Homo sapiens: one gene and its partner. The protein of the gene in region 1 purifies or fractionates together with the protein of each later gene. This does not show direct contact. Each region holds a gene or a part of one and is shown in the gene's direction. Other genes may lie near its edges. The genes, in order: ALDH9A1 and PGD.

Evidence for each region.
Region 2: the proteins of ALDH9A1 (region 1) and PGD fractionate together in Homo sapiens (co-fractionation; 2 studies listed by BioGRID). This does not show direct contact.

What each region holds. Positions count from the first base shown.
Region 1 is NC_000001.11:165,696,557-165,700,471, reverse strand, and holds the start of ALDH9A1 (4-trimethylaminobutyraldehyde dehydrogenase isoform 1 precursor), read left to right. Parts: upstream 1-1,909; 5' UTR 1,910-1,913; coding exon 1,914-2,094; exon of another isoform or gene 2,095-2,222; intron 2,223-3,915. UniProt on the Homo sapiens protein: Converts gamma-trimethylaminobutyraldehyde into gamma-butyrobetaine with high efficiency (in vitro). Can catalyze the irreversible oxidation of a broad range of aldehydes to the corresponding acids in an NAD-dependent reaction, but with low efficiency.
Region 2 is NC_000001.11:10,408,766-10,412,680, forward strand, and holds part of PGD (6-phosphogluconate dehydrogenase, decarboxylating), read left to right. Parts: intron 1-2,652; coding exon 2,653-2,787; intron 2,788-3,915. UniProt on the Homo sapiens protein: Catalyzes the oxidative decarboxylation of 6-phosphogluconate to ribulose 5-phosphate and CO(2), with concomitant reduction of NADP to NADPH.

The sequences.
Region 1 (3,915 bases):
CCTCAAGCGATCCTCCTGCCACGGTCTCCCAAAGTGTTGAGATTACAGGTGTGAGTCCTGTGCCTGGCCAGAGGTTTGTCAGTCTTATCATCTATGAATTAATTCAATAGACATCACGACCACATTTCCAAAACAAACATCAGGAATTATGATGTGACAAGTCAAAATGCATTGGTTGGGGACAGAATCTTTTAAATAGAAATTGTCCCATAAAATTTGAGACGTATAGTTTCTGTACCTAAATGACCATTCAGTGATCTTGGAAATCTATAGTGCTGCTCGTCACCAACTCCTGATATGTTTCAATTCTGTTTGCAATGGACAATAATAAAATAATATGTGAGTGTGGCCTCAGGTATTCTGAGTTTGGGCACTGCTGTTTCCATCTGAGGACCAAGACCTACACATCTCAGTAGCACTGAAAAAGTGAACAAACTGGTATAGAGTGCCAGAAAACTTGATCAGAATACATTATATATACTCTAAACCTGAAAACCACACTCCCTAATATTGCGCTGGTGAGCTGGCAGGTAAAGGAAAAAACATTGAGAAAGACAGCAGCCCCCAGAAGAGAAACAATCCTAAAAGAAATGTCCAAATTGCCAATTACTTTCTGTTTGTCAAAGTCTCTACTGGAGGTGCATGGAAGTTTGGTGAGAAGAATGAACCTTTGTGCAAGATCCCTCAGCTGACAGACCTGTGAGTGCCTCTGGGTGGCTGCTTTGTCTTACAGAAGGCATTTTGTTTCCTGACACTTTTTCCTGTGGCCTTTGCTCTTCGTATTCTGTATGTTAGGCTTCTGTTTCTATCAATATTTGTCATTAATAGCATTTACATTGCTCCTTCAGAATTTATTTATTTTGAGACAGGGTCTCGCTCTGTTGCCCAGGCCTGAGTGCAGTGGCACGATTATAGCTCACTGCAAGCTTGGACCCCCGGGGCTCAGGGGATCCTCCCACCTTAGCCGCCCAAGTACCTGGGGCCACAGGCGTGTGCCACCACACCTGGATAATTTTTTTTTTTTCTGAGTTTCACTCTTGTCACCCAGACTGGAGTGCAATGGCATAGTCTCGGCTCACTGCAACCCGTCTCCCGGGTTCAAGCGATTTTCCCACCTCAGCCTCCCAAGTAGCTGGGATTACAGGCGCCCGCCACCACACCCAGCTAATTTTTGTATTTTTAGTAGAGACGGGGTTTTACCATTTTGGTCAGGCTGGTCTCGAACTCCTGACCTCAGGTGATCTGCCCGCCTTGGCCTCCCAAAGTGCTAGGATTACAGGCGTGAGCCACCGCGCCCGGCCCAATTTTTATTATTTTTATTTTATTTTTTTATAGACACGGGATCTCTCTCTGTTGCCCGCAAACTCCTGGGCTCAAGCGATCCTCCAGCCTTGGTGAGAGCCACAGCGCCCAGTCTCTCTTTAAGAATTTAAAAAGCAGTTTCAGATCACAATATCATCTATCTCGTTCACAGTCCCCTTGCTTTTTACTGTCACCCTTTAAAAAGCATTATACAATTACAGAAACGGTGGTTTAGCAGTGAAGTAACCACCAAAGACTCTTGGCACTCCAATCCTCTGCCTTCTTCAGGCGATAGGATTAAGAATGGGATCCTAGGATGCTTACATGCAATGATGAACCCGAAAACACTTGCAAAGTGCTACGCAAATATTGATCACGAAGAAGGAAGTCCTCTTCCCGCCTGGAGACTGTGTGGGGTATGGCGGGGTGGTGGGGAGAATGTGGTGTCTTGCTCCACCCTCCTGGCGAGGGGAGGGCCTGGCCTGGACCGCAGAGGAATCGAGTGACTGCCCCTAAAATCTCCTAGAACCGATCCCGCGGCCCCGCCCCTCCCGCGGCCCCGCCCCTCCCGCGGCCCGTCAGCCTCTGCCGCGGAGCTGCGTCCGCCACTCATGTTTCTCCGAGCAGGCCTGGCCGCGCTCTCCCCGCTTCTTCGCAGTCTTCGGCCCTCTCCTGTCGCCGCCATGAGCACTGGCACCTTCGTCGTGTCGCAGCCGCTCAATTACCGCGGCGGGGCCCGCGTGGAGCCGGCGGACGCCTCCGGTACCGAGAAAGCTTTCGAGCCAGCAACCGGTAACTGCAACGAGCCGGGGAGGCTGGGGCGCCCTGGGGCCGGATGCGCGGATTTCCCGGCCAGCCCCCGTTTCCTGTGTTCTGCAGCGTTGACTTGAGCACAAGACAGTGACAGTGGAGAGTCTAAGGTTGTGTGTGTAGGCAACTAGCGATTCTGGGGCAACGCGAGTGCCTCCGGGCAGGGATGGGTAGGGAGGAAAAGCAAAGCTGATGAGTTGCGTGGTAGGATCGTGAGTTGTTTTACCCGGGCCAGAACAGAGTTCGCAAAGTACTGGTGGGGGAAGTCGTGCCTCTGTTAACTTCCTTTTTTGTTTGTTTTGTTTGTTTGTTTGTTTTTTGTTTGTTTTGAGACAGGGTCTCACTCTGTCGCCCAGGCTGGAGTGCAGGGGCACCATCTCAGAGCTCACTGCGCCCTCTACCTTACGGGCTCAAGTGCTTCTCCCGCCTCAGCCTCCCTGGTAGCTGGGATTACAGGCTCCCACCACCATGTCCGGCTAATTTTTGTATTTTTAGTAGAGACGGGTTTTCAGCATGTTACTCAGGCTGGTCTCGAACTCCTGAGCTTAGGTGATCCTCCCGCCTCAGCCTCCCAAAGTGCTGGGATTACAGCCGTGAGCCACCAAGCCCAGCCAACTGTTCCCCCTTTTAAAACCAGGACTGATGTATTATTGTCTTCAAATGTGTGCATAGGAGAGGAATTCTAAAAGAACGGGGCGGGGTTGTGGGGAAGATAATCATTTGTGCTGGGAATGAAGGAACGCTCACAGATAGTTTCTAATGACTACGAATGAGGACTTTGTCTCCACATTCTAATATTAAAATATTTCTGCACATTAATCAGAATTGGGAAAGGAAAAAACCCCACCTTTATTCAGTACTTTCTTCCCCAGCTTTATTGAAGTATAATTAACAAATAAAAATTGTATATACTTAAGGTGTAAAACGTGTTGTAATGTATGTATACCTTGCAAAATGGTTACCACGGTCAATCTAATTATCCATTGCTTCTGCATAGTTAATGGCTTTTTTTGGATAGTGAAATATTTAAGATCTATTCTTTTAGCAAATTTCAAGTATATGATGCAGTATTGGTAACCATAGTCACCATGGTCTACGTGAGCTCTCCACAATTTATTCATCTTGCTGAAATAAAACTTTTTAATCCAGTGCTTAATGTGTGCTAAGCACTGTGCTAGGCACTGGATTTACTCTGGGAACTCTGAAGGTCACAGAGATAAGGAAGAAGGGGCTTTTTGTTTTGGTTTTGTGTTGTGTTTATTTTGCTGGGTTTTATGGAATATATGTGGGGAGAAAAATGTAAATATTTTGTGTAAAATGTAGCCAGAGCAATAAAACTGATTTGCAGGGGACTGGAGAATTTAGTATTTGACCATCCACACTAAACCACAGAGCAGTGACTTGGCAGAGCCAGAAGGCATTATCACATCTCTTCTTTATATAGGAGGAAACAGCTTCTCTACCCCGACTTAATCCTGATACAAAAGAAAGAAAAATTGCTCTTTGCTTTAATTGCCTACAGTGTGTGTGATCCTCAGCCACCGCCTTTACCAGCTGGCTATTCAAGTTTGTAACAGAAATTGCAGATTTGTGAAATCTCCCTGGAAAGAGTCCCAGGAGTTCTTGTGAAGAGGATTTGCTGAGTTGGCAAACTTAAAGAATTCTTGTTGGTAGAGGCAGTACAGTCCTTGGGCTATGGGCCTAGAAAAACTGATTGTTTCATAATTTGCACCAGAATAGGGAGAGGGAATAAAGGTGGAATAAGAAAAGGAAATCTGGGAATTTTTGAGAAAAAAAAAATGT
Region 2 (3,915 bases), about 160 Mb from region 1:
GCCTAGCTAATATTTGTATTTTTTGTAGAGACGGGGTTTCACCATGTCACCCAGGCTGGTCTCAAACTCCTGGACTCTCAAGTCATCTGCCTGCCTTGGCCTCACAAAGTGCTGAGGTTACAGGCATGCGCCACCATGCCCGGCCTCGTGTTGCTGTTAAAGTAAACTTTATCTCATATTGTAGTTCAGCCATGCTGTGGATGGAAAAAAGCATTAGGCTCAGGAGACCTGAGTGGCAGTTCTGGCTTTCCATAAACTTAACTGTGACATCAGGCAAGCCACGTCCCTTCATGGACTTCAGTTTCCTTATCTGTAAGATATGGGGTTGGATTACATGATCTCCAAGCTCTCTTCAGCTCCTGATTCCCTTTAATTTTATATCAGCAATTTTAATGTGAATTTTATTATTCAATTTTATTTTATATGAAATCAATGCTGAGGTTGAAATAAGGACTCAGGCCTTTGAGGAATCCGGGAAGCCCTCCCTCCTAGGCCTGCCAGTGCTTGGTGGCTTTGGCCACAGCAGCTCACTTGTCCTTACCTTTTCACCAGTGGTTGGCCATTGAGCTCAGTCAGAATCTGCTTAGGGTAGAAAGAGGCTGGTGCTGGGACTGACGTAAAGAGCTGAGTAATCTTCTCATTAGTGTGAAGGATTGGAAAGGGACCTCTGTTCCCTGACAGTAGATTACTGCGGTAAAAGGCCGGGTGTAGTGGCTCGTGCTTATAATCCAGTATTTTGGGAGGATCCCTTGAGCCCACGAGTTCAAGGCTGCAGTGAGCAGTGATCATACTACTGCACTCTGGCCTGGGTAACAGAGAGAGACCCTGTCTCTTAAACAGAAAAAAACAAAAAGATCACTGCAATAAAAGTGAGTGGTAGCAACTTTTTTTTTTTTTTTTTTTTTTTTTTGAGACAGTCTTGCTTTATCGTCCAGGCTGGAGTGCAGTGGCATAATCTCAGCTCACTGCAACTTCCGCCTCCTGGGTTCAAGCGATTCTCATGCCTCAGCCTCCATTGTAGCTGGGATTACAGGCATGTGCCACCATGCCTGGCTAATTTTTGTATTTTTGGTAGAGATGGGGTTTCACCATGTTGCCCAAGCTGGTCTTAAACTCCTGACTTCAAGTAATCGGCCCACCTTGGCCTCCCAAAGTGTTGGGATTATAGGCGTGAGCCACCGCACCCAGCCTGCAACTTTTTTTTAGATACACACACTTAGGACAAAGTCATGAAGAGAAGCACAGTCCTTGCCCCTACGTGTGTTGATCAAGCAGGCCCTCCTTAGTTCATGGCTGAAGTGGCAGGAAGGGTAAGGTGAAGTAAGATGTTAGCAGCCATGTTACTCTGTGGCCAGAGTGTCAAAATCAGAAGTCAGCAGGGGCAGCAATAGAAACATGGACAAGGCCAGGCGTGGTGGCTCATGCCTGGAATCCCAGCACTGTGAGAGGCTGAGGTGAGTGGATCACCTGAGGTCAGGAGTTTGAGACCAGCCTGGCCAACATGGTGAAACTCCATGTCTACAAAAATTAGCTGAGTGTGGCGGTGTGCTCCTGTAATCCCAGCTCATCAGGAGGCTGAGGCGTTAGAATTGCTTGAACCCAGGAGGCAGGTGTTGTGCTGAGCCAAGATCACACCGCTGCACTCCAGCCTGGGCGACAGAGCGAGACTCCGTTTCAAAAAAAAAAAAGAAACACGGACAATGGAGTCCTGATGTGAGCGTCAGTTATACAACTGACGGTCCAGGTGGTGACAGCCAGGAGAGAGACTGCCCAGGTCATCCAAACACCTGGCCTCCTGGGCAGGTGTGTCCCTGTCATGGAGCTGGGTGTAGATGACTGAGAGTTTGATGCCATGAACTGTTTGGCTCTCGTCACTCCCTTTGTTCCAGTTCTTGACAACTAAATAATTTTCGGATAATCTGGCTTCCCAGTTGCTTGTCTATAGGGCCAGAATGTGTTGACCGGACTAACATTTGTAACCACGAAGATCCATAGTTAAGGTTTTCATCCTACATTCATTAACGGGTATTCTGATTTTATACATCTTGCCAGCTTATAAATAAAGATCTGGTCTTTATTTATAAATATAAATATAAATATAAATATAATGATGGGGCCTTGGAGGGACTCCTTTCTGGGCTTACAAGGTTGAGACCTTGGATCTAGGGTCATTTTACTTTTCAGTAGCCATTAGGAACAACTACAATACATTTATATTTTGAAAAAAAACAAGTGATTTAATTGGCCAATATATTTTAACCTCTAGTTGCTAGAAAAGTGGTAACTTTGGGAAAAAGAGGACTTTTTTTCTTGTGGGTGGGGGCTGGGAAGGTGGGGAGTTGCTTTGAATGATGAGAAAGAGTAGAAAATACAGGCTAGAGAGCCATAAGTATTGAAAGTGAATTCAGGGACTTTGAGAAACCTTGAGAAGAATGAGTCTAGAATTAGTGTTAAATAATATTGTACTGGACTGAAGCTTGCTTTGAATTGCTATATGATTCTTGTATCAAAAATGCTGTACTCATTTTATACTTGTTATTTTTTGTGTGGAGAGGTAGCCTTGCCAGGGATGTTGGCATGAAAGCTGATGTGGACTTCTCTGATGTGTCGCCTGTTTCTCTGAAGGCCTCTTGGTGCTTGTTGTCCTGACAGGTGGGAGATGAGGGAGCAGGCCACTTCGTGAAGATGGTGCACAACGGGATAGAGTATGGGGACATGCAGCTGATCTGTGAGGCATACCACCTGATGAAAGACGTGCTGGGCATGGCGCAGGACGAGATGGCCCAGGTGAGGCCCCGGCACTGCCTCTGTGTCCGTTCTGCAGGGAGTGCTCACTTTGCCACAGACACCGAATCTTTTCTTCATTCCTATCCCCTTGGCCATTCGGGTGGCCTGCATGGACTCAGCCTAATTTGAGGGAAACTGTTAGTAATAGGCCTATACACTATGCTAGTCAGTCACTAAGCAGAAAGTCCCCACAGAGTCTGGGTGGTTATCATCACCACCATTTAGCGTAGCTTACCTGGTGTCAGGCACTGTGTCACTCCACATACCTGTCCCATTTACTCCCACAGTTGTCCCACATGGCAGATGCAGCAGAAGCTTTCTTTCCTGATCAAGTTGGGATTGGCTTTTTGATAGTTAATCTGAAAAGTCAGTCCAAGTAGGGAAGCTGAAGCATTTCCCCCAACATTTTATTATGACAATATTCAACCATGCAGCACAGAAGTTTGAGAGTTTTACAGTGAACACCTGGATACACACCTCCTCCTTTCTCCCATCCACAGGTTCCTGTACTTGCTTTAGCAATGTCTGTCCATCCCCCACCAATTTCATCTTATTTTTTGGATACATTCAAAGTAAACTGCAGGTATCCATACTTTTGTTTTCCCTAAATACTTTAGATGAATGTATCTTTATCATGAGGTAAACATAGATTTTAACTGAAAACATAGGAAAGGACTTTCATTCACCCGCCATTTTTTGGAGGGCCAAGGCCTTCTCGTTAAGTATGGTTTGCTGATGCGCTTTCTAGTCGTGTCTTACCATCTAGAATTTCTAGTTTCAGTTATTTCCAATGGGATGTGATTTACAGACTCTAGCAAGGCATACAGTATAGCTTTCCAGATTTTTTGTTGTTTTCCTCCTAGTTTTTTATTCATGTCATCCTCACTTACTTTGACTATTGTTTGTTTCACTGGATTGCTGTTAATTGTTCTTTCTAAAACATTACCTTAGTTTTCTTTCACAGAAACAGTGCTATTCTTTTTGTGTTCATTTTTTATTGGTATATATAATACTTAACGTGTTCACTCAGCAAACACACGAGTGCTTTACTATATGCCAAGCATGATTCTAAATGCTGGGGATATACTAGTGAAGAAAGCAAAGTGCCTGCCCTCCCGGAGCTGGGAA